Regions from separate parts of the Homo sapiens genome. Here regions 2, 3, 4 and 5 are each reported to be linked to region 1. The links are microRNA targets in miRTarBase. Many come from high-throughput screens and were not tested one by one. Region 1 holds a microRNA gene; each other region holds the end of a gene's coding sequence.

Region 1 (6,233 bases):
TAAATTTTTGAAGGATGTGATGTTCATTAACATTCGGTTGTATTCCCCAGTATTTGTAATGGGAAATTACAGATAAACCGTGTCTGCACAGTTTAAGGAATACTATGTATATTCATGCACCGTATTGATTCATGCTATAGTTACTTAATCAAAGATTTTTTTCAAACCTGCCTTACATATAGGCCCACTTTAAAAGCACCTGACTAGCATGTGTTCTTGATTGCAAAATTGGCAGAGGCAGGGTGTCAACTTGATTAGGTGTTTTTATGGGAATGTAATTTGAAATCACTACTTCAGAAATTTGACTTAAAATTCTTGAGCACGTTAATATGTTTTTAAGATCTGATTATCTTTGAGAGATCTTCTGTTAATACACATTGGTTGTTAAAGAGTACCCAAATTCTAGGACAATGCTTAAAGTGTTAAAATACCCTAGATACTGTGTTATGTGCAACTGTAGAAACCCTCCAGAAATTTCCACTGCTGTTCTTCACTTTCATCTTGTCTGCTATCAAACCACTTCTGACAAAATTAGCTGTTTTGAATTACCCATATCACTGCCAGTTTTATTTTAAAATATTTTGTGTTTGAAGTATCTGTGCATGGGATCGTTGATGTTTATCAGAACTGTTCACTTTCAGAAATGATTTTTTAAAGCATTTTGTTGAAAATGCGGTTGCTTTTTTAACATTATTTTAGAGTTGTATCAAAATTTTCCTGTTTTCTGTATATTGTTGTGTCATTTCTTGGCTTTTTAATATTTTGACTACAATGCCCTAATGCGAAGAAGTATGGACATATAAATATTACAAGAGAAATTAGTTAATAGTAAAGGGTTAAAAGGTAAGTAAAATGTCCATGAAAATAAAATTTTCTTTGAACAGTTTAAAAATGGAATCACAAAAATCTAACTGCACTTGAAATGAAACTGGAAATTTTATACTAATTAAATCCTTTATTTACCTTTTCATATTTTATCAATGGAACCTTTTAATTGCTCCTTCTATATCACTCTTCTCCTTGCTTGGCTGATCTCATTACATGACTTTCGTTACAGACAGTGTGAGTGTACTAGATTTGTTTGCTGCTAATCCGTTATTTTAAGTGTTGTCAGAAGGAAATAACTTCTTGGTTTGACCAAGTAATTTTGCAAAGTCCTTCTCTACCTGATAACACGTGAATGTATAGCAGTAAAGGTGAAAATTGCAGGCCTTGTTTTGTTCTTCATACCCCCTTCAGTTGTTTATGGGTTAATGTTATTTGAAAACTCTTCCTTTTTTTAATGTGTAAAAACAATCCAAAGAGATAAATCCTTGCATAGACACCAAAAACAGTGTCTCAGAGACCTTTTCATTTTTTCCTTAGTTAATAACTGTAGTGGATGTGAAAACAAACGAGTTGAATTTTAAAACATAGCATTTATTAGTGCTATACAGTCACATTCCTTTCAGCCAGTAGTAAAGTTAAACAGATGAGTGATACAGTACCTGAATGGTACTGCTTCTGAGGCAACACTTTGGATTGAAAGTGCTGCTTTTGGTTAAAGGAACTATGTTGTGGAAAGCATATTCCAGTGTAAATTTGCAGATGTGTGTTTTTTTTTTTTGTCACTTTTCATAAGGTTTGGAGTAAGTTGCAGTGGCTTTTGATCATAGTTTAGCCCATTTAATGGTCCTTTTACCTAGAATGTTCTTAAGCAGTTAATGACAATTTGGAATACACAGATAACTTGTAGCTTAAGATACTATTTTCATTTAATTCTCCTGTGGAGAATATTGCTTTATTTTTTACTAGTTTCAGGTCAGTTATTAAAATAAACATGGAGGTTTTAATGAATGTTGTATAATATTTTATAGTGAAGGAAAATTGTGGAAAGGGCAAAGACTTTCTCTTTCCCTTATGTATTTAACTGTGCCAATCTAAATACATACTGTTTTATACAATGAGATGCATTACAAGACTTTTCTGTTGGAGTGCTCTCGACATTTTGGTTTTCATACCTGAATGATCATTGCATTTTCTGTATTTTCTAAAATGGCTCCAATTTTGTGTTTTAAGCTTCAGCTTAAGAGGAAGTTTATGTTCTAATTCTTGACTGAGAATACAGTATTGAGATTCTCTGTTTTACAGATAACAACTGGTTTTTATTACTCATTAAGTTCATTTGCATCCCGTAGCCCTCTGTAAATGTTTCCCCTAGTTGTATGTACGTAAATGCACGCTTATCCAGTGTATATTAGACATTTTTGTGCTAAAATATATTAAGTGGGATTTTTGTAGCAAAGCATTCTATTTTTCTGTTCTTACAGTGTGTGTGTGTGTGTGTGTGTGTGTGTATGCGTTTTTTTAACCTTAACTTCAGTTTAAACACTGGTGTATTTATTTTTTTAAGCAACTTGACTCTTAGAAGCCTTAGACTGATTTTTTCAATAAATATTCAACCAAAAATTATAAATTTATTAAGATGTGGCCTTACATATGGCATTCCTTGTGTTCGTAATGTGAGATTTTTGATTTAGATAAATCAAGATTCAGGATTAAAGTTTCATTGTAAGTTGAAATAGAAAATGTATTAAAATGTCTAGGCTTCTGGGAGGAAGTTCTTATACTCTTCTTTCTTGGCATTAGAAAGAAGCAATATGAATTTTTGTGAATATTCTAAATATTCAGGCAACACTGTTCAGATTGATTTAGGTTTGTCTTAACCAATGTTCTTTTTTTAGAATTTCAGGTTGTGGCATTCACTGAGTATGCAGCTACTATGGTTTTTGTATGGGACGTATAAATACTTGATTATATACGACAGATTTTAATGTCTTTAAAGACTTCCTGCTGTATTAACATATTGTAATGGAGTCTTTTAAATACTAGGTTGAATTTAATTGAAGTCACACACATCTTGAAGTGGTAACTGCATAGTAAATACTACCAAGAGTTTTTTTCACGTGGGAGTATCCTAAAACTCTGCCATGGGTGTAAATGTTTTACATTAATTTCATAATTGGACAGACCCTGCATTTAGCGAAAACATTTTGTTTTGAAAGTGTGTTCTTTTTGTCGCACTGTTACTGCGTAACACTTCTCAACATTCTGTAAGTTAAATTATTTTAAAATAACTATGGTGAATTCATGTTTATTTTTTTACTTTGAAAATTGTAGTACTCAGGTGGTATTTAATGGGAAAGGATCCTTTGGGTATAAATCATAATGTATTTTAAGGAATGCATCTATAACATTGATAACTTTAGCCTTAAAAAAAAGGTCTATTATTCCTTCCTCTGCATCCCATGGTATATTAGCAAAGTAGTTTACAGCCCTGTACAGCCTTACAAAGTTGTTTTACAATTTTTAATGGAAAGCCCTTAACAACAACAACAAAAAATTGTATCATTTTACCAATATCCACGAATTACTGATCACAGTTTGTAAATAATTTGTTTAATATCAGAAGGCCAAAGAAAGTCTTAAAATTTTAGCTATTGACTCTATGGTGACTTCACAATAAGATTTCTGTGCAAAAAGGTAAGGTGATAATTGATCTAATAGACTTTTTTTTTTTTTTTTTTGCTGTCCATGAGAATTAGACTTCATATTAGCTTCAATTAAAAAGCTCATTCCATTTTATTAAAATGTTTGTAATTGCAATTTTGTGTTTAATGTTTACTTTGTCTTTCCTTTCTTTAGCATTTAGGTGACTGTTCGGCAGTTTGATATATGGCCATTGTCGGCCTTAAACTGCACTAGTAACAAGCATGGTATTTATCTTGTATTGAAAATAAAACAAACTTTTGATAAGACTTTGCAGTTTGTCTTTTTTGTTTAATTTGTTATTTGGTAACCATTGTGTATGGTTTTAAGTAGTTAATGTTTATTGGCAATATGCAGTATAGCAGAAATTGGACTGTTGTCTGTATTCTATCTTTAAGCCAGATAGTGGTGGTTTTCTTGTGTATTGACATTTTGGTGCTCTTTAAAGCGACTGATAATTGGGCTAAAATTAGGATTAAGAGGCCTGACAGATTTCCAGGCTGTTACATGGTTTTTAAATGGAAGATTCAGAAAGCATTTGTCTAGTTTTAGAGGATCATTAACCTTACTAGACTTAAGTAAAAATGTTTGTAGCAAAAATATTTTACTGGTTAGCTTGGAAACATTATGGGGTACTTTTGAAACAGTAACAGACTTCAGTTTCAGTGATTTCAGTAGATATTTCTGTGCCAGGTATTAATATCAGGCCTCAGATTTCTTACCTGCAAGCTTCAGAGTATTAAAGGTAACAGTTCTAAACAAGTGAATATGAACATGAGAAATAATACTACCATCACTGGGATCCCTTTCCATGCCTCCACTAAAATTGTGGTTCAGATTTTTGTTAGATTTCCTGTTACTGTTTGTTGTATGTTTCCATTGATCAATCCCTATTTGTGTTGAATTAGTTGAGACTCTCGTCCCTACCCTGTGAGGTCATTTAACTTTAAGAGAAGATCATTAGGAATATTTTTTGGCCAGATGCCACACTACATATGACTCAGTTCAAGACCTAATTTAGTGAAAGAGAGAAGCTTTTTTTTTACAAAAGATTTATGGACAGACTTTTCCCAGTCTTCCTAGTTTTGTTTCAGAGCCATTACCATGAAACAATAATTATTAGAAATGATTTCCAATGATGTTGTTGGTCTTTTTCTCCCATTTATAGTTCATTAACAGTTCTTGGATTTTCGTGTGGTACATCAGTTCTGATAAACTATTGTCAGTTCCAGATAAATGATATATACTTTACCTTTCAAAAATCTATATTCATTTTATAGAAAAACTTTAAAAAATGAAATTTACTACTTTAATGTTATACTGAGATCTGTAGGAAAAAAATGGTGAATGGGAAAGGGAAGTACCTTTTAGGCAGAGACTTGCAAAAAGGGCTTTTGGCAAGAGGAGCATGCTAGTAGGAACTGAAAGAATGCCAGTTTGGCTGAAGCAGGGAGTGAAGAACATAGCCTATGTGTGGAGCTCAAGCAGTTGGCAAGGCTAGGCTCTCCGGAGCTTGTAGGTCACATTAAAGATTGTCCTAAGAGTCATGTGGAATCATTGAATTGTGTGAAGTGTCATAATCAACATTTCAAAAAGCTTCTTGGCTGCAGATTAAATTGATAAAAGAATAGATAAAAGAGAAACACCTCTTCCTGTCAGGAGAGAAGATAAGGGTAGATAAAAATAGAAGTTTGTGGGCTGTAGGTGTGTGGTAGAAATTTTAAGATGTCATATTTAGTGACTTATGTTTTCTTTGAAATAGAAATTGAGGGCATTGTGGTGTGGGCATGGCTTAGTTTAGAAGTAACAGTGTTTATCTGTGAGATTGTCAGGGTTTGCTATCTAAGATAAGGCTCCCATTTTTATGGTGGCAGTCCATCTAGTAACACATTCATCCCCTGGGAGAGGGTAGATGGATCAAGCTATGGGACGGAGAAGGCAGTAATTGTCTTCATCAGTTTTCACTTTAACGGTTGTCAACCCAGCTGAAGAACACAATCACCGATGCTGTCCTGTTGTTTTTTAGGGGATTGCTATTAACATTTTATTTTTTGAGACAGTCTCGCTCTCTCACCCAAGCTGGAGTGCAGTGGCGCATTCTTGGCTCACTGCAACCTGTGCCTTCCAGGTTCAAGTGATTCTTCAGCCTCAGCATCCCGAGTAGCTGAGACTATAGGTGTGAGCCATCACACCCGGCCAATTTTTTTTTATTATTTTTATTTATTTATTTATTTATTTATTTTTTGTAGTTTTAGTAGAGACGGTTTTTCACCACGTTGGCCAAGCTGGTCTCGAACTTCTGGGCTCAAGTGATGAGTCTGGCTTTGCCTCCCAAAGTGCTAGGATTACAGGCGTGAGCCACTGTGCCTGGTCAACCATCAACATTTTTTAAAAATTGTTTTTGTACCTATTGCTTCATTAGTTTCTTAATTATCCTATAAGACAGTTAGTATTCTTTTTTTGTTTTTCTTTTTTTGAGACAAGATCTTGCTGTCATTCAGGCTGCAGCGCAGTAGTGTGATCATGGCTCACTGCAGCCTACCCCGGGCTCCTGAGTAGCTGGGATCACAGGTGCATGCCACCATGCCTGGCTAACTTTTTTATATTTTTGGTAGGCATGGGGTTTTGCCATATTGTCCAGGCTGGTCTCAAACTCTTGGGGTCAAGCAATCTTCCTGCCTTGGCCTCCCAAAGTGTTGGGATTA
Region 2 (6,233 bases), not on the chromosome of region 1:
AACCACAGGACAGGTGGTTTGGCAGCTCTTGACTGTTCTTGGGGCAATCTTACTTGGCAACAGGCGTGTACACTGAAGATATCTTTAGCTTCTAATAATTTTTCAATTCAGTTTTTGAATGTTAAATTTACTTGGTTCAAACATCAAAAGGGATAAATTTAAGGTAAAGTGAGGCCGGGCGCAGTGGCTCACGCCTGTAATCCCAGCACTTTGGGAGGTCAAGGTGGGTGGATCAAAAGGTCAGGAGATCAAGACCATCCTGGCTAACACGGTGAGATCCTGTCTCTACTAAAAATACAAAAAAATTAGCTGGGCCTGGTGGCGGGTGCCTGTAGTCCCGGCCACTCGGCAGGCTGAGGCAGGAGAATGGCGTGAACCCTGAAGGCGGAGTTTGCAGTGAGCCGAGATAGCGCCACTGCACTCCAGCCTGGGCGACAGAGCAAGACTCCGTCTCAAAAAAAAAAAAAGGTAAAGTGAAAACTCCCCTTCCCATTCCATCATTTTCTCATTCCTTTCCATGGCTAGTCAGAATTATTAGTGTTTTGTACATCTTCCCAACTTCCTTCCTTCCTTCCTTCCTTCCTTCCTTCCTTCCTTCCTTCCTTCCTTCCTTCCTCCCTCCCTCCCTCCCTCCCTCCCTTCTGCCCTTCTTGTCTTTCTTTTCTTTCTGTCATCAAGGTCTTACTCTGTTGCTCAGGCTGGAGTACACTGGTGCAATCATAGCTCACTGCAGCCTCCTGGGCTCAAGGGACCCTCCCACCTCAACCCCCTGAGTAGCTGGGGCTACAGAGGTGCGCCACCACAAGGTAATTACAATTTTTTTTAAAAAATAGAGATAGGGTCTCACTATGTTGCCCAGGCTGGTCTTGAACTCCTGGCCTCAAGTGATCCTCCCACCTTGGCCTCCCAAAGTGCTGGGCATGAACCACCGTGCCCTGCATTCCCACTTTTTTGATGCATAAGTAAGCAAATAGGAATGTAAATTCTTATTCCCCCCCCTTTCTTTCTTTTTCTTTTTTTTTGAGACAGAGTCTTGCTCTGTCGCCCAGGCTGGAGTGCAACGGTGCGATCTCAGCTCACTGCAACTTCCGCCTCCTGGGTTCAAGCAATTCTCCTGCCTCAGCCTCCCTATTAGCTGGGATTACGGGCACGTACCACCAAGCCCGACTAATTTTTGTATTTTTAGTAGAGACAGGGTTTCACCATGTTGGCCAGGCTGGTCTTGAACTCCTGACCTCAGGTGATCCGCCCGCCTCGGCCTCCCAAAGTGCTGGGATTACAGGCGTGAGACATTGTGCCTGGCCTATTTCCTGCTCTTTCTATACAAATTGTAGTATCCAGTATCCGGTGTTCCACACCTTGCTTTTCCTCATTTTCCATTGTACCTTGGAGACATTCCATATAAGTTTATTGAGTCCTTTCTTGTTCTTTTTTTTTTTTTCTTTTACAGCTGCATGATATTCCCTGGACCTTAAGATAGATAACCAGTACCCTATTGATTAGCATTTAGGGTTTTTCCAATCCTTTATTTTTATAAACAATGCTGCAATTATATAGCATCACATGTATGCTGCTGCCCATACATGCAAGTATATCTGTAGGATGTTTCTAGAACAGGAATTGCTGGAGCAAAGCAGAAATTTTGGTAGATAATGTCACATTGCCCTTGATAGGGATTTTAATAATACACATTCCCACTAACCATTCCTCTGCCTCCCTCAGCTTCAGTAGCGGAGTGGGTTATGAGGCTTCCAGGTTTCGACAAGCTCATAGGTGAAAAATGGCATGCCAGCCAAATTTTAATTTTAATTTCTTTTGCAACTGTGGTTGAATAGATGTGTAAGAGCCATTTCTGTTTGCATTTCAAACTTTTTCTTTTCCTTTCTTTCTTTTCTTTCTTTCTTTTTTTTTTGAGACAGAGTCTCGCTGTGTCACCCAGCTGGAGTGCAGTGGCATGATCTCGGCTCACTGCAACATCCACCTCCCAGGTTCAAGCGATTCTCCTGCCTCAGCCTCCCGAGTAGCTGGGATTACAGGCGTGCGCCACCATGCCCGGCTAATTTTTTGTATTTTTAGTAGAGATGGGGTTTCACCATACTGGCCAGGCTGGTCTCGAACTCCTGACCTCGTGATCCACCTGCCTCGGCCTCCCAAAGTGCTGGGATTACAGGAGTGAGACACCGCATCAAACTTTTTCACCTAAAGTGAATTGTCCTTCAAGTCCAGGCTCGGAGCTTCCCACATAAATTGCAGAGTCTCTGGAATCTTTGAGAAAATATATACCTTTATTTTAAAAATAGCTTTTGGCATTCTCTGACAATAAAAGGAGTTGCAGCTACAGGTCACCATTGAACATACAAAAACACTGAGAGTATGTTGAAAGAAACTTTTGGCAAATACGACAGAATCTGAAAAGACTAGAACCAGGTTCCCAGAAATTCATGACACTGTTTAAAACAGCCTGGCTGAGGTTAAAAGAGACTCATTGGAGTCTTTGCAAATTTAACATTATTTTTATTCCTATAATAAATATTTTCCCCATGGAATCCATCTGTATCCCTCCCCTCCAATAGCACCTGTGCTCTTCTGTAATTTTTTTTTTTTTTTAGACAGAGTCTCGCTCTGTCACCCAGGCTGGAGTGCAGTGGCGCGATCTCGGCTCACTGCAACCTCCGCCTCCCGGGTTCAAGCGAATCTTCTGTCTCTCCCAGGTAGCTGGGATTACAGGCACGTGCCACCACTCCTGGCTAATTTTTGTATTTTTAGTAGAGACGCGGTTTCACCATATTGGCCAGGCTGGTCTCGAACTCCTGACCTTGTGATCCACCCACCTCGGCCTCCCAAAGTGCTGGGATTACAGACATGAGCCACCGTGCCTGGCCACTTCTGTAATCTTGAAATGAGCACAGAGAAGCCCACAAGTGCTTTTAAAGCAGCCCTCTCTATGTCCCAAATATCCCCTGTAGTGGGGCCCAATTCCCCAGCGGTCCCCAAATGACCAGCACTGCAGGCATTTAGGAACTAGATAAAACGTAGACTGCTATTTCTTCCCTCCCCACCAAGACAGCAAATTGCCCAGAGGGGTATAGGTTGAGGGAGGTTGGGGGCTCAGCTGTGGGCACAGCTGGGTGCAGACCACCACTTAGTTGAGATAATTGCTGGAGGTTTTTGTTGTTTTCCATTGAAAGGTGTTGGTTGACTTACGGACCTCAATAAACAGCCAATAGCTATCCCCGAATGACTCAGGCTAGACCCAACCTGAGGCTCTTCACAGTCCAACGTGGGGGCCCCAGGCAAAGAGACCTTGAGGAGCAGCTGAGGGCACCTGGGCCTCAGCATTTCTCGGTTGAGATGGCGGCGTCCCTGACAAGCACAGCTGTTTTCCTCCCCACCCTTCCTCACCCAGCCCAGCCTGGCAATCCACCTAGGAAACTGGCCCAGCTGGTGTGGCCTCTAAATGAGTGGCTGGGTCATGAGGAGGAGGACTAGCTGGGAGGGAGGCGGGAGCCCCCAGGGGTTCGTTTGCCCACATAGTTCTCAGCTGACTCAAGGCTCGCCTGTCAGGCTTCCCCTCCACTCCCTGCCACCCTTGAGAACCCCAGGACTCAAAGTTTGGATCCCTCCTTTGGCCTGGAGGGCTCAGGGAGACCTCTGGCTCCGTTCGTGGGGCACTCTGCTGGGGTGGCCTCTATCAACCAACCCCTGTCTCTGGATCTGGCCTCAGCTCTGCAGGAAGAACAGTTTCTGTTCATTCTCCCAGAAATTCTGGGGCAGCCTCTGAGATCAGCTTCTCCTTCAGGGAAGCCCTTCTAAGCTGGCAGGTTGGGGACAGGGAGGGTTAGGGGATGGGGTGCTGTGGTGGAGGTCGGGGGTGAGTGCTGAGATTCTGGGCGCCCCTTCTGTCTGTTCCCGAGGGCAAGCCGCAAATCCTGGGTGGGAATTCTGGCCTGGAGGATCCTGCCATCGGCCAGCCCAGCAGGACGTCTGCCTGCAGGACTTTCTTGTCCCTGGAGGGGCCCACCTGGCTTTGGGCAGGTCACCTGGCAGGTAAGGTCTGCCGCTCAGGGCTGGTGAGCCTGCAGGAGGGCAGTGACCACCCATCTTCCCAGCCTAGAGGAAGGGGAACGCATCTGCTGAGGATTCACGTGGGGAACACGCGCCGCGCGCATGGAGTCAGCTCCAGCCTCTCTGTCGAGCGGAAGCCCCTGCGGGGGTCGGGGAAGCCCAAGGCCCTCTCTGTGCCCAGGTCCTCCCCTCTGCCTGCCCGCGTGCCCCTCGGAGCTTGGTGGCACCAGGGCTGCCGTGGGCCTCCTGTCCCACCCCAGGCCACGGCTAGCCCGGCGGCCTCCCTGAGGTGCGGCTCACGCCTGCTTCCTCACCAGCAGCACCCAGGGCAGGATGGCGGCCACCACGGCCACCACAGCGATGAGCGTGATGAGCAGCAGGGCCCGCGATCGGCAGCAGAAGGCGCGGGCGGAGCGGGGCGCCAGGGAGGCCTCCGAGAGCTCTGCCAGGCTGCGGCGGGGCAGCACGCTGTCCTGCTCCCCCAGGGGCATCCCGTGGCGGCTGATGACAAAGATCTGTGACTCCCGGGGCAGGCTGGGCAGCAGGTCCAGGGGGAGCTGGGCGCTCTGGCCCGGGCTGCCTGGCGGCCTGGCCTGGCCTGGAGGTGGCCTCCAGGCAGGGGAGGAGGCGGCCAGGGGGTTTGTGTGGCCCAGGCTGTCCAGTGGGGGCACGGAGGGCAGGCCCACGGGCACAGCCAGCGTCTGGGAGCTCTTGTCCAGCATGGAGGGCCAGCGGGAGCTCTTCTTGCTGAGGAATGTGACGTAGCGGCAGATGGGGCAGACCAGGGTCCTCTGGACCTGCCCATCCACGCGGGTGGACAGCAGGTACTTGACCAGGCAGTCATGGCAGAACACATGGCCACAGCTCAGCGTCCGGCTGGCGCCCTCCAGGTCCCGGAACTTCTCATAGCACACGGGGCACTCACTGCCCGAGCTGTCCTTGCTCTCCCCTTCTGACATGGCCACTGGGAGATGGCACGCTCAGCTGTGGACGGGAAGGGTTGTGAATATTGGGGCATTTCCTCTTTCCCTCCCCCGTCCTAACTCCCACCTACACCTCTGCCTCCACTGCCCCTTATCCCCTCTCCCTGTCTTCTGCCTCCTCTCTCTTCCTCCTACTCTTGGCTCTTCTGCTGCTCCTCCTCTATGGCCCACCTGACTCAAACCTAGAACCCAGACCCTTAGGAGGAGAGGAGCAGATGCTTCTGGAAGGGAGAATCGGGAGACAGAGAACCAGAGAACCCAGTCACACTGGACCCCAGGAGGAGGTGTGTGGAGTTCCTGATGTCTCACCTCAATCATCATGTACACACATGGTGAGGTCACTGCCTCACCTCTTCCTGCTTCAGTGACGGAAGTGAAGAAAGGAAGTCCCTGTTACCAGGGGAAGCAGGTGGCTAAGAAGATGCATGCACAGCCCCAGTCCAGTCTCCAATTTGGACCTGCACCCAGAGTGGCCATTTTCCAGAAAAGCCCGTGCTAGTCTCAACCTCTGCCCTCACCTGGGGTTGGCGGGTCCATTGGATTTCCTCCAGCCATTGGATTGCATTCCTCTGTGCTAAGTGTGGCTATAAAGCAATGACTGTTTAAAAAAACAAAGCTTAGAACTTACACATTCAAATGCCTGCTGGCCCTCCACATAGTCACGTCAGGGAGCTTTAGGTTCATTCCCTCACCTGCCACAGCTCAGTCATTCTCCAAATTCTTCTTATGGGGCTGCCTGAGGCAGTGAGAGAAGCATCTGATTAACCGTGATGGAGACAGAATTTCATCCTTTGAGAATATGTCTGATACTTTGGAAATGCCCAGAAGTCACTGGTAGCCAAGTCTGATAGGAAAGTAAATGAGTGATCAAGTGGCATGATATTGTTTGAAATCAAAGCTATGGAGTAGCAAGATATAAAGTAACAAGATATATAAAGTAACAAGATGGTTTGTTTTTTTTTTTTTTTTTGAGAGGGAGTTTTGCTCTGTCGCCCAGTCAGGAGTGCAGTGGCGCAACCTCAGCTCACTGCAACTTCCACCTCCTGGGTTCAAGAGATTCTCCTGTCTCAGCCTCCCAAATAGCTGGCATTACAGGTGCATGCCACCACCCATGGCTAATTTTTGTAATTTTAGTAGAGACAGAGTTTCACCATGTTGGCCAGGCTGGTCTTGAACTCCTGACCT
Region 3 (6,233 bases), not on the chromosome of region 1:
CTTTAAAAGAGATGCATCATTTAAAAAAGGCATCATTTAAGGCTTCATTTATGTCATGGTATTGATACCTTGGATCTGAAAAAAGCTAAACCATTATATTATCACTGCAATGAACAAAAATTAAAAGCACTTTTCTAAAGAAGAGTTCTTCCTTTTACAAAGATCTTTGAAGAAACTTAGATGCCATGTTGTTCTAAGGTCATTTTAAAAAATGGAATTCCAATTGCAGAACGCAAATGCAATTAAAACTAAATATATGAGCACCACACATGAAAAAAATGTTGAAAACTAGTAGCTATCTTTAAGAGATAAATTATATTGAAACACAAGTTATACTGGTTTTTGGGGGTGCATTATTGCTTTTCGTTGGACAACCACAAAACCCCCTCCTGTTAGACTAGTCTTCAAAAGGTCTCTTTTTCCAGATGTACCTTCCAGGATACTACTCCCTTATCTACAAGCAATCCAAATGACTAAGGGATAATTTCCAAACACTTCTGCTTGTTAACCCCTCCTCTCCAGTGCTGAAAAACTCAAGACAAGTAAAAGACACATTTTTAATTAACATTTGGAAGATGGCTTTTGTTAGTTAATAGCAATTGTTAACTCTCAAAATAAACAGGAAATAGTGCCACTTAGCAAGTTGTATGTTCCAAACCCAAGAGTAATGGGCCTTAAGAAATCCAAGTACTTTTTCACCTTGCAGTCTCAACAATCCTTCCTGATTCTTAGAAAAAGCACAAATCTCCAGCAGCCAAAGTAAGTGCTATTTGGAGAGGGGGCTTTCCTCTGAGCCCACATGCAGCCAGCTTCTCCAGGTCATCCTTATTGCTGCAGTTCTCTTACATTAACACCATGTTGGGCATGGCAAAAAATGAAGATTGTAGCACATCAACCTTTCTGCTTGAGAAAAAAAATGCATAAATGCATACGTTTTGCATTTCATAATCGGTAAAAGCCTCCTCCTGTATAATCTACTGATAATAACAGTTTATTTGTCCTTAACCCACGAAAACCAATTACAGCCACTGCTGGAGGTAAGCATGGGCAAATCAAGGAGAAAGCAGCTCCAGGAGCACCAACTTGAAAAAAAGATCATCTAGCCAGTTTCATCTGTGAAGAATTCTGTCCACGTTGCCCCTCCCCCTCTTTCAGATTCCAAGACAAAGGGCGTTTTTAAATATGGTAAACTCAGAAAATTCCTAGAAAGCATGTGTTGAGTTGACACATATTCAGCTGATGCCATCATTTTCAGGGTCAGAGGAAATCTGGCCAAGAGACATTTAATGTTCCTCGATAAGGTAGCATTTGACAAGACTCCTCTGAGAACTTATTTTTTTAAAGCTAAGGCAGATTGTGTAGTGTCCAGATACTGTAGGGCCTTTCCAATCTTAGGCATTGGGCATAATAACGACAAAAGTCAAGATTTAGGGTTCAGTTCCAGCTGATTTTATTTCCTTCTCAAAAAAAGTTATTTACAGAAGGTATATATCAACAATCTGACAGGCAGTGAACTTGACATGATTAGCTGGCATGATTTTTTCTTTTTTTTCCCCCAAACATTGTTTTTGTGGCCTTGAATTTTAAGACAAATATTCTACACGGCATATTGCACAGGATGGATGGCAAAAAAAAGTTTAAAAACAAAAACCCTTAACGGAACTGCCTTAAAAAGGCAGACGTCCTAGTGCCTGTCATGTTATATTAAACATACATACACACAATCTTTTTGCTTATTATAATACAGACTTAAATGTACAAAGATGTTTTCCACTTTTTTCAATTTTTAAACACAACAGCTATAAACCTGAACACATATGCTATCATCATGCCATAAGACTAAAACAATTATATTTAGCGACAAGTAGAAAGGATTAAATAGTCAAATACAAGAATGAAAAACGCAGTACATAGTGTCGCGAACTCAAATCGGCATTTAGATAGATCCAGTGGTTTAAACGGCACGTTTTTGCTTATAAAAAAAGTGCAAAAAAGATGTGGTTTACAAGTTAAAGCTACAGAATCCCTTTTTGCTGTAATTGCACCAGTTTTAAAGCCTCTGGACAGAGCAGTATTTCGTTTAAAACTTTGTTTTTCTTAAAAGCTTACAGTGTTTGGCTAATTCTCCTCCCCTTTTTACAAGACGGGGGCCGGAGGGTGGACACTGGTGGCAGGTTAAGGGATACTGTCACTTTAAGAAGCCTGCAGATTGAAGTGTAAACATGGAGAAATTAGGGGCTGATTTTTTAAACTGTGTGAGATATTAACCAGCCGCCCTGTTATAAAATCAGGAAATCCAAACAGCGATTTACACCGATTAACACCCCCTTTATATATTTTTTACAAAAATACACTGAGAAAATAATCAAACGTTTTCATCTCTCTTGTCTTTTTTTGTTTTTTAAAAGTGTCAAAAGTCTACATTTAAATATAAAAAATTAAAAGTTAAAACTCTAGCCCTTCAGTGAAGGAGACGTAAAATGGCGTGGGTAACAACAACTACCAAAAAAAAAAAAAAAAAAAGAAAAAAAAAAGAAAAAAAGGAAAAGGAAGGAATAAAGAAATAAAGGAAGTAAAAAGAAAGGAAAGAAAAAAAGGGACAAAAGAAAAAATATGTTTGGCCAGTATAAATACGTCCACATATAAAATGGCATCTGATTACATTTACAAGGAAAAAGAAATACGAGGATGGAGCATCGGTGAAGGAAAAAAACACGTCTTCTCATTTACACCTATAAGGAATAAACACACACACTGAGAAAAAATTTGGTCCTGAATTGTTTTTTTAAAGTCCAGCACAGATTTGAGTTGCGTTTGAATCCTTTAAAGAGTTAAGAATGAAAAAAAGCTGGTGATAATTTCGTTGTAGGAATCAAACATAGCGCCATCTATCTGCTTTTTATATTATCCTACACTATTTTAAAAACTGCTCAACAGTCTTATACAGAAATCTTTAAAAGATAGACAGGATAACATGCTATATTAACCCCACCATTGAAATAATCCAACACCATCACGATTCCGATTAAGAGAAGAAAAAAATCTTTTTTTTTTCTTTTTTTTTCTTTTTTTCTTTTTTTTTTTCCGAAACCACTCGCCCTCCACTGACTGCCCCTGTACCACATCAAACAGTCTCCTCTCCTCCACGCCTCCGGGGTCTGGGAAGTCTCACCTCACTGATTTCACGTAGAAAAGAAGGCGGAGGCCCAGCAGCCGCCGCCGCCAGCTCCCCAACGTGCAAATCCATTTCAGTTTGACCGTGAACCCCCTTCCAGTTCGTGTCCTCCTCCGCCCCCGCCCCTAGCTCCCGCTGCTGCGCTTCCAACGGGGTTCTCGGGTCATTTCCTAGCGCCGGTCACACTGGCTGGCCTCCTCCCCTCAACATCTCCTCCTCCGGCTGCAGAGGGGGCAAGGGGAAAAGAGGGAGGAAAAAAAAGCCCCAAACGGGAATTCGCCTGCGTGGAGTCTCTCAGTCCCGGCGTTCCCCCAAAACATCTGCCATCGGCCAAATTCGTCACCCCGGAGCCTTCTGTCTTCATCACGCGTTTAAAAAAAGGGGGGGAGGGGTGCGCTGGGTTCTCCCCTCCTTTCTTGACCAAGAAGCAAAATAAAACAAAACCAAGGTGGTGATGCAGGAAGGGGGAGACTCCTTCAAGTCTCTAGAAAACTAACTCGCCTTCTTGCTGGGGGTGCAGACAAGTCCGGAAGCTCGTTGGAAGGGGGAGGGGGTCTCTTCAAGCAAAGGGGAGCAAACTCGAAGTCGCTTTTTTTTTTTTGCCATCAACAACAACATCAATAACAACAATCACAGGTCGCCCCTGTCTACCCTCTTCCTCCTCCGCGTCCCTCCGGCTGGGCAGAGTGGGTCCCCGGCCCGGGAAGGTGGGGGATGGGAGCGCGGGTCCAAAACGCCGCCGCGCTCCTTGATCCGACGACGAGAACGCGGGCGAAGCCAGCCCTGCTTACTTTTTCTTTCTTTTTTCCCTTTTCTCTTTAAACTCTTCGTCTGTCCTTTTCGTTTCTTTTTTTCACTTTTTTTTTCTCCTCTCCTACCCCCCCCGGCCCTTCTCCCTGCCTGCGCGCCCTTCAGTAGGTGAAAACCAGGTTGGAGATGCTGGACTCGAGCCAGTCTCCCGAGATCATCTCGCTCACCTCGGGCGTGCAGTAGTCCGGGAACTCGAAGTGCGAGCCGGAGCCGGGCTCGAAGTTAAAATCCAGGTCCCGGTCGAGCGCCGACGACGAACTGAAGCTGCCCAGGGACATGCTCTCAAAGTTTGAGCTGGGGTTCAGGTCGAGCAGGTCGTCTTCGAACTCGTCGTCGGAGGACGAGGAGCCCGAGGAGGAGGAAGAGGAGGAGTGGGACGAGGCCGAGGAGGACGCGTGCGAGGGCGCGCTGGACGGGGCGGGCGAGGCGGCGCGCAGGCTGGCGTAGCCGCGGTGGTCGGCGGGCGAGCGGCCGGCGGCGGGGGACGAGGCGGCGCTGCTGCGGCCGCTCAGGCTGGGCGCGTCGGGCGAGCAGCCCGCGCCCTCCTCCTCGTACAGGCCCAGGGGGTCGCTGGGGTCGGCTCCCGCGCCCACGCCGCCCACGGGCGACGACGACGTGCCCAGGCCGCCGAACAGGTAGACGCGCTTCACCTTCTTCTCCGCCAGGTGCTTGCCCGGGGCCGCGAGCGCTGCGGAGGCCGAGGCTGCCGAGGAGGCGGAGGCCGAGGCGCTGGGAGTCCGCGCCTTGTACAGCGAGTGGTGGTCGGCGGCGGCGCCCAGGGGCAGCAGGGCGGCGGCCCCCGCCTGTTCGGCGGCGAAGGAGGCGGCGGCGGCAGCCGCTGCTTTCCCGCCGCCGCCGCCGCCTGCCAGGATGAGCTTGGCGTGCGGTTTGCTAACCCCACCGCCCGCGCCGCCCGCCACTTTGGAGCCGCAGCTCTTTTTCTGCGCCGGTTTGGAGTTGGCGCCGCCGCCACTCGCACCGCCGCCTCCTCCCCCCGCGTTGCTGCTCCCGCCGCCGCCGCCGCCCCCATGGCCGCCCCCGCCACTGCCACCGACCTTGTCTCCCTTCTCCCCCGGCTTGGAGGAGGCGGCGGCCGAGGAGCTGGAGTTGGCGTTGCCGGACTTCACCTTCTTCCTGGGCCGGTACTTGTAGTCGGGGTAGTCAGCCATGTGCTTGAGGCGCAGCCGCTCCGCCTCTCGAATGAAAGGGATCTTGTCGCTGTCTTTGAGCAGCTTCCAGCGTTTGCCCAGCCGCTTGGAGATCTCGGCGTTGTGCATGTCGGGCGACTGCTCCATGATCTTGCGCCGCTCGATCTGCGACCACACCATGAAGGCGTTCATGGGTCGCTTGATGTGCCCACTCGGGGTCTTGCACCAGCTCGGGTCGTCGGCCTTGCCGCCCGTGGAGGCGGTGGAGCCGGGCGTGGGGGAGGAGGCGATTCCCAGCTCGAGGCCGGCGCCCGAGTCCGAGCTCTCGCCGGCCAGCAGCGCTTCCGTGTTCTCGGCATTGTTGGTTTGCTGCACCATGGCCTCGGCTCGGCGGGCGCCCACGCGCGCTCACACCCTCGCGGCGGCCGCCGCGCGATCGCCGGGCCCTCCCGGTTCCCCGGGCCAAGCACACGCCGAACGGGAAGACGCGCGCGGCGGCCGAACTGGCCCCTCAACTCCTCGCAGGGGCGGAGGTGGGTAAAGAGAGAAAAGTCCCCAAAAGATTTGGGGAAGGAGTTCTCCGCCTCTCGCAGAGGAGTTATAGTTCCCAGGCTGGAGAGTCTCTCTCTCCCTCTCTCTCGCTCTCTCACCGCGCTGCAGTTTGCTGTCTCTCGGCTGAGTCTGGAGACCGTGCTAAAGTAGAGAGGAGTTTCTCGAATGCTGGTTGCTGAAGCTTCCAATGCAAGTTTCTCGCGGCCTCCCAGGCAAGTCTTTTTTTTTTTTTTTTCTTTTTCCCTGAAGCAGTTGATTCCAGTTCACGAGCGCTCTCGGTAGCTCAGGAAAGCGACATAGTCTCTAGCACTTAGTCCCTCTCCTACAATGCAAAGCAAAAAAGACTGTGGCTCCAGGACTCTCTGTGGGCGGAATCGGCACTAAGGAGTTGGTGCAATTATTTTGTTGCAAGGTAGGAAGCCAAAAAGCCTGCATGCAACAGACTGGCATGAATAAATGTATGTTTCCCCCTCCCTTCTGCAAGAAGGGAGCTGGTAATGGCAGGAGTTCCTCCAGTGCAGACTCTTAAAGAGCGTGCAAGAACTAGA
Region 4 (6,233 bases), not on the chromosome of region 1:
TAATCTGCTTTAAATTCTCAAAATCAGTATCAAAAAAGCATACAGAGTATTATTCTAATTGTTAACATTTACATGAATTATACTGGACTCAAATAAAAAAAACTTTTTTTAAATAGTGCATACAAGGCACAAGAGCTTATTATATTTACTGAAGCTGAACATTCTGGCATCAACACACTTTAGTTTATCTCAAACTAAATTTCCAAATAGCATGCCATTTTAGTTCATGTTGAACTAACTTTCCAAAAGTTGTATGATTTTTATTTAATGATTTGCATAATTTAACTGTAATAGGTGTTTAAGGAAAAATATAGTTTACCTGTCATCATTTTGATGAGACGAGAAAGAAATAATATAGATATCACTGGAGGGTAAATCTATTGACCTATTAGGAATTCTTAAGAGAAATTCAATAGTTTTACTATGTTCAACAGGAGAAATAATCTAAAAAGAGATTTTTAGAAAGCCAAACTGACAAAAGAATGTCATAAAACAATCTTCATAATTGCTATCATAAATTTCCTCCCAATTTAACAAGAAGAGATGAAAATATATTTCTGATGTAATAGAAATGTACCGTATTCTGACAAAAGTATTCCAGCCAACTGCTTTGAGAGCTCAAGCTTCAATGTCCACACTTATTTTCCAGCAGAAAACAAAAGGCTGGAATTAAGTGAGGCAAAAATGGTTGATGATCTTCAACTGCAGGCCACCTGGACTCTGTAATGAATTCATAATTATTACAGTTCACTCAGTCTGAGGCTGGATTCACATCAGAGGAAAAAAAAGAAGTATGGTTTGCCACTTCCACCTTCTTAAAGGTAACAAGTTTTATGAATAATGCTTATCATTATAATGTGACTTGAAATCTCTGAAATCCTAATATCTTAATAGTCTCAATTTTCAGATTCGGAAAATCAGATGATTAATGGAGTTTCTATGTGATAAACTGTGCTACCCATATATTTGGGTAAAAACTGGTCCTTGGATTTATTCCAAGTTTTTTGGAGAAGATGTTTTCCCCGTTGATTAATAAACCAGAACTACTTTTAATATTTAATAGGAATTTGTGTTAGTTGTAACAATGTGTGTATTGGATCCAAAACATGTTATATTTTAAGCAATGGCTTGGAGAGAACTAATCAATTCATATTCTGCATTTCCAGCCAAAGGGACATAGGCACAACTGACTGGTGGCACCTTCCTGTGGGAAGCCTCTTCCATCCATCTACAGCATTGATACCTTGAAATGAAACAGAAAACATGAAACTACTATGTTAACCATAAACACGCAAAACAAACCAACTCATTTCATAATCTGTTTCAATAATATCCCTCATTCAAAACTGTTTACTATGCTAGCAGGCTCAGTAGACGTGCTCTTGAATATGGAACTCTACATCAATACTGCTCAAACTTTAATATGCATATACGAAAGGATCCTATTAAAATGCAAAAAAAAAAATTGCAGACTCTGATTCAGTAGGTCTAGGATAAGGCCTAAGATTCTGCATTTCTATTAATCTTCCAGGTCATGACAATGTTGCTGGTTTGGGGCTTCAATGTGAGTGGCAGGGTTCTATGTTGTTAGTTCTGCATTCATCTGAGGCTGAATGGAGTTTAGGAGTGGCAACTGAGTCAGGAAGGACATTTAGGGAAATGATTTTGAAACTTCATGTGCATAGAAGCACAGCTTTGTTTTGTTTTGTTTTGTTTTTTGAGACAGGGCCTCACTCTGTCACCCAGGCTGGAGTGCAGTGATGCGATCTCCATCTCAGCTTACTGGAAATTCCGCCTCCCTGGCTCAAGTCATCCTCTCATCCTCCCACCTCAGCCTCTGGAGTGGCTGGGACCACAGGCACATGCCACCACACCCAGCTAATTTTTTTTCTTTTTGTATTTTTGGTAGAGACGGGGTTTCACCATGTTGCTCAGGCTGGTCTTCAACTCCTTAGCTCAAGCAATCTGCTTGCCTTGGCCTCCGCAAGTGCTGAAATTACAAGTGTGAGCCACCACGCCTGGCCAGCATTTTTTATTTATACCATATGATAGGAAAGGTTGGTAAGCTAAATTTAATTTACTTTTTAGTACTAACTATGGGTTTAGGCACATTATAACCATCTGGAAACTGCTGAACAAACAAATATTTTATAAAAAGGTGACATCATTTACTATTGTAGTTCAAAAATAGGAGAAAAAATATGAAGTGTTTTTTTTCTGTTTTTTTTTTTTTTTTTTTTTTTTTTAGAGTCTTGCTCTGTCACCCAAGCTCCCAGGCTGGAGTGCAATGGCACGATTTTGGCTCACTGCAACCTCTGCCTTCTGGGTTCAAGCAATTCTCCTGCCTCAGCCTCCTGAGTAGGTGGGATTACAGGTGCGCCACACCACATCCGTCTAATTTTTGTATTTTTAGTAGAGATGGGGTTTCACCTTGTTGGTTAGGCTGGTCTTGAGCTCCTGACATTGTGATCCACCCATCTCAGCCTCCCAAAGTGCTGGGATTACCAGGCGTGAGCCACCGCGCCCGGCCAATATGAAGATATTTAATATAAATTAGGCACATCAGTATCAAACTATTATTTGATATAAATACAACTGGAATGAATTGCAAATCTGAGATGTAAAGCAGGAAAAAATTATTTTTAAAAGTCTAGTTTCTATTAGCTACTTTAGGGAAAGTTTAAGAAAACAAAACATGTTACTGCAACTGGTTGTATCGATAGAATAGAAAACATGACATCAGAAAATCGGGTATTTTTAGATCTATAGCGCTGATTCATGCTGCCATTTTGTGATTATGCCTAATCATGCCATATTTGAATTAATAAAATCAAGTTTCTGTCAGATTTTTAATTTCAATGTTTTAATTTTGTCACTTATCCATCAAATGTTGAGAAACTACTATGTGTCTGGCATTGTGCAAGGTGTTGGAGATAAATAACCACAATACTGGTATTGTCAAAATACTGGGAAGTCTCGATGGCTTTTATATAATATTACCATGTAAATATGTAAAACACTTAACACACAGAAAAATTCCTAATAGCACTGACCTTAAAAACAATGGTTATTGCAACTGATGATTTCAAAATATTGAAAAAAATCCTGTGAAATTCTATGTCTTACAGAACTATGTTCTGTATATTTTATTTGTGGTATTGGCTGGTAGTGACTCATATTTGCTATAGCTATACTCTAAAATTACATTCATAGTTACATTCTAAAATTATTTTCAGAAATTTAATAATGTCTTTGCTATTTAATCAAATTCAGATGAAATTTTCACTATTTTAACCAGTTATAGTCAGTCTGACCTACTGTAGCAACAGGTATTCAGAGCTGATCCTGCTCTTCCCAAAATCAGATACTAGTCAGCTGGCAAATTGCCAGGTCAGCATTTTGCTGACAATACATGGCTAACTTACCAAAACCAGAACAGACAAATAAAAACAGATATCCATGAACTTTGATGCAAATCATTTTGTTTTACAAGTGAATCTCTTGCTTTTCATAGACTTTAGGATTCTAGATTGCCGTTATGTAAAGAGAGAGTTATCTTGCTATCTTTAATATTCAGCTCGGTAAACTGTTTATTATATAGTTGTTTGTTCCAAAGGGGTTCCTTATTGTAGCTTTTTATTGACTGCAGGCTTACAAACAGATCATATTTTAAAGAAACTGATTTGGAACTGCAGGTTTAAAAAAAAATAAGGCTTAAAGAAAATGATTTGGAACACCTATTATTTTAAGGTTAACACATGCTATAAGGCCCTACTATGACCCAAAAATGGGAATGACAGTGTGCTAATGAGTACATTAATGAGATATAATTATATTGCACTTCGACTTAGAGTTTCCTAATGGATGGTCAAGGATATGACCACTGTATATTCTGAAAGATGAAGAAAAATTAAAAATAATTATTCTAACTTCCTATAAAATGACAAGATAATTTTTACATATAGTTCAGTATTTTAGGATTGATCCCTACCACTTAATGCATTAATATAAAATGACTCTTGTTCATCAACTTATTTATATAATTAATCAAGTTAACACAAATACCAGCTAATACTGAAGCTAGGTCTGCACTCAGAAGCCCCAGCATGGCTAATGCAATCTCACAAGTCAGGTAAAAGATCTTCTATATGAATCACTCACAAATTATTAAAAATGTTTATGGAAACTATTTGCCCTAATAAAATTAGAAGACTGTTAAAAATATAAAACAATAAAGGGAAAATTATCGTACTTTTATAAAGTATGAATTTATCTTGCTTGAAGAGTTAAGTCTCATTTTCCATGGTTAATGCAGGATTGCTCATACCTTAATGAAAGCACATAAGTTAGCATTTTTGGTTGCTTTTGAACAAATAGGCAGAAACTTCTTATTCATCTATGAATAAGGAATCCCTTGGTAGACTTCCAAAGGTGCCTTGTACATAATAAGGGTATATATAAGATGGTGATATAGAAACACACACACACCCGTTATACAGTGTCAGTTACAACCACTATCTCTCTCCCACACACACAAAACACTAAAAACAGAAATAGACATCTGAGGAAGTAGAGAAACATAATAATGAAAGATATATTGACCCACACTGCTCACATCAGCTTACATCAACGTTTCCAAATTCTTCCTCTACCAACCTCATTCTAGTCAAACCAATCTTTGAGCACTTTCTCACCTCATTTTTCTTGCTTCTTTTCCTTCCTATACATCATCCTTTACACTTTAAGTAGTTCTTCATTTCATCCAACTAACAAAAAAATTAATCGAACATGCCGAAGAATTATAATAGCATGTGAAAATCAAGAAACCACTGCTATTTTAACATAAATTATGTAAGATGAAATGTGAATCCCTTCTGGATGAAGAGGAATTCTTTGTTTTTCCACGTCTCAACAATTGACCCCCAACTATTTATCACTTCTCTGCCTCTAACGAAAATGATGGATTCAAAGAACAAATCAGTGTCATCAACTTTTGTTTAGGCAATGCCTAGTCCTTGCCATAGATTAGAAAGTGAAATGGCATGTGTGAAGGTCAAGAGAGTGACCAAATTATGAATAGTCAAATAATGGGACCCTCTGGGAGGCAAATATATTTCTTAAAGATAAGGCTAAAGAAAGCTTCTATTTTAGGAGAAGATGACTGATAATATATTAAATAATGACTAGAATATTTACTCAGGATCATCCATTTGTTTTTCGCTACCACTAAATCCCAGAGGTTTCTTCAAACTCTCGTACTACCTGACTTTGGTTCATTACACTTTAAAACGTTGACTGGTTTATTTGAAAAGACTAGAAACGAAGGAGAAAAGGTTAGTAGTCAATCTGAAGATTTTCTGGCTAATAACGCCTTAATCACAGATGTATGGCTTTAACTCCTTTATGTGGACAACACACATATATACACACACATGCATGTATGATCACCCTATTTTGTCTACTCCTTATCAATATTGAGAAATAGGTAGTCTTTTGAAAAGAACAAAGCTAAGTCTAAAAGATGTTAGGTAACGTGACACATATCACACCCTACTAGGAGCCCAAATTAGGGTTTTTAAATCAGGTCTGACTTCGGAGCCTTGCTTGTTCCTTGCTAACAAACTACACTGACTGAAGAAAACAAAAGATTGAAATCAACAACAGTAACAAGAGGAATGTGAGTGGGATATGAAGAAATCGCAGGCAGCTGAACTTATGGTACACAGTAACTTTACTCAGACATTTTGAAATTGGACAGAAATCTTGGAGTAAAAGATAGAACTGAATAATTTAAGGTCCTTTTCAGTAGATATTTATCTTCTATCTGATTTGATTGTAGTTTTTTCATTTTTATACTTTATATTTTGAATTTACTTCTATCATTTTATTTGAGGAATGGTGATAAAGATTTGGTTCTTTAAACAGAAAAAAGGCAATGCAGATCCATCTTTCACAAAATGATTTTCTGCTGCTAACAGGTTATTAACGAACCTCATAAATAGTTCTTTGAAAATAATTCTGAATTTAGAATAGAAGTCTGACTCCAAACTAAGAAAACATCTGTAGGTAGTATAATGGATTTTTTTTAACCACGTTTACCTTCTAAAAATAAAATATGTCAAAAAACAGCCAAACAAGCACACCCTTACCAGCTTTGCATTTTCCTGGGTTTATGCTGCTCTCCGTCCAAGACTGAGAATCAGTAAGAAGGTGGCTCTGGGACTCTCTCAATG
Region 5 (6,233 bases), not on the chromosome of region 1:
TTAGCTAAAGACTTGAGGGGGACATTCTGAGATCTTCAGAACTCTTTCTCTACGTAGCTCTATGTCTCATACTCTGCCCTGCAGATCTTTGCCACTTTGGCCTTTTTGACTTTCAGCCTTATCTCCTCAAATAAGAGAAACCATGTGGCTCCACCTGGATCCCCCCTCCCTGCACCCATGTTCTAGAAGTTCTCTCAGGCCATAAGCTAGGGCAATCCTAGGGGTCACCTAATTTGTTTCCTGTTTCTTGGAGATTGTTATCCTTCATTGCCTGATGTCCAGTATCTTGCACACCATTTTTAAAAATATATATATTTCCCAGTTATTTCTTACACTTAGGAGGGTAGATTGGTTTTTGTTACCCTAGTTTGTCTGAGATCAAAAGTCCTGGAAGAGTTTCTCTAAAATTAACCATTTGTAGAGTGGATATGATGGAAGTATGAAGTGTCAAGGGCATTGAGAGGGTGTTAGCAAAACTGGTTGAAGTGATACATCATGGGGCTTGGGTTGTTCTGTGGAAAAGGTAAGAAAGGGTGCAGCACTCAGGATTGGGCTGAAGGTTTTCATAAATACAAAGAACAAGAATAAAAGAATAAGGCAAAGATAAAGCTAGCAGTTGAAGAGGCTGGAGTCAGAATGTGGCATGTTTATTCAAGATTTCAGAGGTCAGGCAGTTCAAGGTGACAGGCTGCAGGGTGTGACCATCAGCTCAAGTGGAGTATGAGGGTGGTTGTTGAAATTGATTAAATCTTTGAGACATGAAAGAATGACTTACCTCTATTTGAGAAAGTTTCAGAGGGAGCATTTCCGTGGAGTTCGGGGAAAGACAGCCTCGTTAATCAAGCCTGTGTTAATCAAGTTTATTTACAATGGAATAATGTTTCCTTAGGGCATACTACAAACGACTTGGAGCACTGTCGCAGTAGAAGGTGTTAGGATGAAAACGCATAGTAGGACAGAGGGGATGGTATATGGGAGGAGCCTTGACTGGCAAGCCACATGTTCCAGGGATGAGATTTGCTAAGCTCCAGCCAACCAGCCTGCAGATGCTGAGGTGCTGGCTGATGTGGGAGGTCTGCAGCTGGCCAGCAGGTGGTGGCCAACCTCCCAGATGGCTCCAATGATCCCCACGCCCTGGTATTTGTGCAGTCCCCTCACATAGTGAATAGGACTGACTTTTGAAACTATAGGATATTGTGGCAATGACAGTATATAATTTCCAAGGCCAGATCATACAAGAAATTGTGGCTTCTGCCTTGTTCCATTCTGAATCCCTGGAAGAAGCCAGTGCCATGCTGTGGGGACAGTTAAGCAGCTGTGGAAAGGCCCACATGGGGGGAAACTGGGGCCTCCCATCAACAGCCAGTTGCACTTTGCCAGGCCTGTGACTGAGCTACCTTAGAAGTTTATTTCCAGCTCCAGTCAAGCTCTCAGATGACTGCGGCCCTGACCCATTTTGATGGCCACCTCACGAGCGATCTTTGAGCCAGAATCATCCAACTAAATCATTTCTGAACTTCTGACCCACAGAAATGGTATGAGATAATAAATGTTCATTGTTAAGTTTCCAACTTTGGGGACAATTTGTTATTCAGCAGAAGGTAACTAATGCACGTTTTAGTCCTGGCACTAGGATACCTTAACAAAACCTAAAAATGCAGGCATGAGTTTTGACCCAGTGAGCAGAGGCTAGGAGGGCCCTTAGGAGAGAGGTGGAGGAGCTCACACCATTGTTATTCACCTGCGGGGCCCACAGCTGCTCCACTTTCTGAGTGTAAAAACAATGTGGCTGCTGTTTCCCTTCTGCCTCTACGTCTTACACCAAATGACCCCTGCAGCGCACCCCATCTGGAAATATACAGAGAATGGAATTCTGGAAACACACCTCAGTCTTGCTGTGCTGACACGTTACAAAAGCATCATGAGGTGCTGCTGTGAAGCTGACTTAGAGGGGGACCGTGCCAGGGGCAGGACCATCAGCTTCCAGAGCAGTCACAGGCTTTGAAGTGTCTGGGGGGTTCCGGATGCCACAACAGAGGGGAACCCAGAGCACTGCGAGAAGACAGAGAAGGACTCTCAGCCAAGAGGGTGGCTTCTCTTGCTTGCGAGGGGCAGAGACTTTCTCAGTGTACTGGAAATAACAGGTCTCAACCATGCTGTGAGGCCTCGTGGGAAATCTGAAAAAGCCACAAAATGCCTGTGCCTTTTTTTTTCTATCACTGTTTCCGCTAAAAGGTGAAATAAGTGAAAGAAAGATAAAAATCCAAGAGATTGAAAACAACTGGCTCCCATGTGAGACCGGGGTATGACGACGCAGGGAATGACTGGGAAGTGGCGGTGTCATTAGACTCACACATCTGAGGTCACTTCCTCGCCATGCTCAGATGAGCCGTCTTTTCACCCATGCTGACGGACTGGAGCCCAGAGCCACGCCGCCATGATCACGGAGGGCCAAGGGCTTCACCACACTCCCCTGGTCAGGGCCCAGCTCACCCGCAAAGGGTGCAGCGGTCCATATGTCTTCATCCCTATTCCTATATCCTGGAGAAATCATTTGGAAGAGGGACAGACAAAAATAGCAGCCTGCTAGTCTCTTAGGAGCTTAGCAAAGAGAACTGGGTGGGATGGCGAGGGGCCATCCTCCAGGAGGAGTCTGAATGTGAGGCATTGAGTACAGACTCGAAGCTCCGCTGCAGCCAGCTCTTCCTGGGGGAGGACAGGGTCCCACCCACCCAGTTTAAGGAGGGGTCTAGAGAAACTTACACCAATCGGGGCATATAGATTGCTCAGGGTACAGCGAAGCAGTAAAGGTCTAACACGCAGATGTCCAGGTCAGTCCTCTTGGAGGGCAACCTCTGCCCTTGAAGTCTTTGGTCACCAAGATCCCCAGAGCAGGCAGGAACAGTGCCCTCAAGCCTCTCCACTTCCCACAGCGGGTGGCGGGCCAGTCTCTGTCTCGGCACTAGCAGACTCTGCTCCTCTGCCATGGTGAGGGTGCTGCCCTTCCACCTCCCATGGGCTCTGGAGGCTTCTGGCACTTGCTAGCCAGTGTGACTTTGGACGGGTTATTTAATCTTTTCTAGCTTGAGTTTCTTCATCTGTCAGGTGGGTTTCGCAGTTGTACCTGGCTCATGTTTGGGGAGCACGTGCTACCACACAGGAAGATGCTCTGCATGGTATCTGGTTCACAAGAGGTGTTCGACAGAGCTTTGCCTCTGTCAGCTCTTGGCAATCGTTAACACAGCCTAAAACCCAAGCTAAATGCAAGCTGCAAGGCCACCGTGCACCTGCCTTCTGTGTCAGCGGCCAGAGCCCAGGGTGGCGCAGAGCAGGTGCTCTGGTGGGAACTTGTTCAGCTCGGTGTCCTTCAATGCACTCTGATTCTCTAACCCTTTAAAAACTGTTCTCTCAGCAAGTCTTAGGTTGGCCTGAGGCATAGAGAAGAGAGATATTATCCCCCGCAGACTGAGGGGAAACAGAGAAAGGAAGACGATGCTCCAGTTAGCAAGTCTCTGCCATGGCCCCTGGCCTGGCTGCCCCACAAGGTCAGGGCTCACGCCCCATGGTGCAGGCTCATGGCTGAGCCTCCCCGGCACCAGGGCAGGCCACCGTGAAGGGCTCAGTGCTCTCACTGACGAACACTCTCTCTCAAAAAAACTCTACTCTACTTGCTCCGGCAAACAGGCCCCGGCCGCACTCTCTCCCCCTGTGTGCTGGCGTGTCGGGTGCGGCCTCCACCGCCTGTGCACTGGGACACCAGGAACATGCCACGGCTGCTCACGGGTCATCATTTATTGAGATGAGAATTCACATAAAGTAACATCATACAGAAAATCGTTTCCAGGCCTTAAGAAAAATGATTGTCACTCACTGTGCTTCACAAAAATTTCTTTTAATGAATAAATAATTTGATGAAATCAAAAATATTTACAATATAAACACATGGAAAAGCTCTGGGTCCGTGAATCTGATCGTTGAGTTTTGCATTTTGTGAACTGAGTCCTCCCCCAAGCTTTTCCCTTGGAAACAATACAAATCTGACAGAAACGACGACTCATACAACATATCTTTGTTCATTACACATTTATCTGTTAGTCCTGGAAAGCTACATAAGCATATATTATGCAACATGTTAAAGTACAAATATTACCTAAAATAATATATTACCATAATGCCAGATAGCATTCTCCACAGAACAAAAACATACACTCAGCTGTAACAATAACGAGGGTCACGGGCCACAAAATAATACCCCAAAGGTACAAATTCCTTCATAAGAATATAGTTGTGCTCTTCAGTTTACCAGCTGTCTACGCTGCTCTAGGAAGCCGGTGGCAAGGAGTACGGGATTTGGCAACTGTGGCTGTGTGTGTGTTTCTGTCAGGCAGCAGCATTACTGGGATTGGGCAGTGCAAGCAATTTTAGAAACACTTTCTTGGGCTCTTAAAAAGAGCCAATTATGCAAAGCAAAATAAGCATATTGAGAAGTCTTCATCTCTTTTGCACAAATACCATGGAACGTCTTGGCTTTGTGGTATGAAAGGGATTGTTTGCAGAGCTGTTTACACCATCAGCCAGAATTCAAGTATTCCAGGGCCACCTCGTAGCAGAACTTGTACTGATCCTGGAAAACAGGAGGGGAAAGTGTCAGCTCAAGAATATCTCAACGCTGTTCCTAGTAAAGCAATTACCATAGAGTAGGGTCTTAATGGGAAGACATCAATCTGGGAGGATTTGAATTAGAAATGAATCAGAAAGTCACGGTTCTGAACTCCAGATACATTCACTGTTTGGAGATGCTCCCCACAATGCTGGGTGGAAGGTATTTTGCTACCTGTGCTGGCTAGAATTCCCGGAAGGTTCTGGACACTTGGAACTCTAAATATGTTTGTCCACACATGTATTTTCCAGGATATCAACATGCTGAGCTTTGTGCAGGAGGGTCAGGGGTAGAAGAGAAAGTAACGAGTGCTTCAGGAAATGCCTTCCTGACATCTCTCACAAGGCCCTTGGTACCTAGATGAGGCCTCATGCATGATCCAGCTTTACCTTTGACTTTCAGTCTGTGGGAATTCCTCAATCTCATGAGAATTTCATAAGCACCTCCTGAATACCAAGCCCCTTGACCTGGTCCCTGATTTTGAGAAGTCCGTGATCCAGTGAGGAGGATGAGACAGGTAACCCAATGACAACACATGAGGTGGAATGGTCCCTATGCTCAGGGGACGGCAGGTCTTCTTAGGGAAGATGGCAGTGGGAAGTGGACAGCGCCTTCCCCAGAGGACGGAACTGATGCGTGGAGTGGAGGCAGCCTTGGTTTGCCCTGGACGGTCCTGGCTTCTGCCTGTTGTCCTGGCATAACCCTCTTTCACTCTCAAAGTGCCCTAGTTTGGATAAAGTACGTGGCCATCCTCACCCGTTAATTAAAACAGGCATTCCAGGCGGAGGCAACAGGACGAGGAAAGGTACAGAAGGGGAAATGTTTGAGATCCTCTGGGACCCATAGACCAGTTCTTCATCAGACAGGGAATTAATTTCTCCCTCCTTTCTTTTTTTTTTTTTTTTCTTTTTAAGAAACATGGCCCTTTGTCACCCAAGCTGGAGTGCGGTGGTGCAATCATGGCTCAACACAGCCTCGAACTCTTGGGCTCAGGCAATCCTCCCACCTCAGCCTCCTAATTAGCTGGGATTATAGGCACGAGTCACCACATCCAGCATTGGATTCATTTTTCTTGAGCTCAGCTTTCCTGGATCGTGTACCTTGGCCCAAGCAAGCTCTGCACAAGGTCCTGGCTGAGGTGTGGTCTCGGGTGGCCGGGGAGAGCATTCTGCACCTGTATGCATGGAGTGTGCTGATAGAACCAAGCCTGGGAGTGGTCTCTGAACCCAGAAGAGGGACGCAGGGCTTGAGGAAGCCTCTGCCTGCCACCTGGCAGGAGCCCGGCCCTGGACAGAGCCTTAGCAACTGGAAGGCTCTCTTCTACTTCTGGAGCAGACAAGCTTTCACATGTGTGAGCGAGGTTCAGCACCACTGTCTCTACCCATCACAGCCACAACCAAGGAAATGTATCTATTACTTTTCATTTTGCCAAATTAATTGAAAACGTCCAGTATTTCTTAAGTGCCTCCTAATTTGTCACTGAAATTTCCTTTTCTTCACCTACACTCTGTTTTGTAAATACCCTAGTAGTCCAACCTATTTATTTGAGGACAAGGGACACAGTTTATCTCTC

The links. The annotated mature microRNA hsa-miR-1279 reads UCAUAUUGCUUCUUUCU and lies in region 1 at 2,627-2,643, opposite strand. An mRNA with a match to its seed (bases 2 to 7 or 8) in the 3' UTR can be bound and repressed. Matches are read on the target gene's strand: a 7mer-m8 pairs with bases 2 to 8, a 7mer-A1 pairs with bases 2 to 7 and ends in A, and an 8mer does both.
Region 2: miRTarBase lists RNF222 as a target of hsa-miR-1279. Seed matches in the 3' UTR shown: 7mer-m8 at 2,784-2,790.
Region 3: the mRNA of SOX4 is a reported target of hsa-miR-1279. Seed matches in the 3' UTR shown: 7mer-m8 at 1,606-1,612.
Region 4: miRTarBase lists ZDHHC2 as a target of hsa-miR-1279. Seed matches in the 3' UTR shown: 7mer-A1 at 1,148-1,154.
Region 5: miRTarBase lists PTPRM as a target of hsa-miR-1279. Seed matches in the 3' UTR shown: 7mer-m8 at 4,477-4,483.

What each region holds. Positions count from the first base shown.
Region 1 is chr12:69,270,562-69,276,794 of GRCh38, forward strand. MIR1279 (microRNA 1279) reads right to left here and starts at 2,657; the gene lies at 2,596-2,657. It overlaps CPSF6 (cleavage and polyadenylation specific factor 6), which reads left to right. Exons shown (of 10, transcript NM_007007.3): 10 at 1-3,797.
Region 2 is chr17:8,388,438-8,394,670 of GRCh38, forward strand. It overlaps RNF222 (ring finger protein 222), which reads right to left. Exons shown (of 3, transcript NM_001146684.3): 2 at 5,741-5,892; 3 at 2,265-5,049. The coding sequence starts at 5,024. The coding sequence ends at 4,362. Among named protein-coding and RNA genes, the nearest start is that of RNF222, 6.3 kb to the right of the region's middle.
Region 3 is chr6:21,593,813-21,600,045 of GRCh38, reverse strand. SOX4 (SRY-box transcription factor 4) reads right to left here. Exons shown (of 1, transcript NM_003107.3): 1 at 1,427-6,233. The coding sequence starts at 5,511. The coding sequence ends at 4,087. Among named protein-coding and RNA genes, the nearest start is that of SOX4, 3.2 kb to the right of the region's middle. RefSeq lists an enhancer at 3,535-3,734 and silencers at 4,545-4,594, 4,645-4,734, 5,505-5,684.
Region 4 is chr8:17,215,266-17,221,498 of GRCh38, reverse strand. It overlaps ZDHHC2 (zDHHC palmitoyltransferase 2), which reads right to left. Exons shown (of 13, transcript NM_016353.5): 11 at 6,150-6,233; 12 at 4,253-4,327; 13 at 1-1,243. The coding sequence ends at 4,287. Among named protein-coding and RNA genes, the nearest start is that of CNOT7, 28 kb to the left of the region's middle.
Region 5 is chr18:8,404,500-8,410,732 of GRCh38, reverse strand. PTPRM (protein tyrosine phosphatase receptor type M) reads right to left here. Exons shown (of 33, transcript NM_001105244.2): 33 at 3,877-4,624. The coding sequence ends at 4,571. Among named protein-coding and RNA genes, the nearest start is that of RAB12, 200 kb to the left of the region's middle. RefSeq lists an enhancer at 3,508-4,152.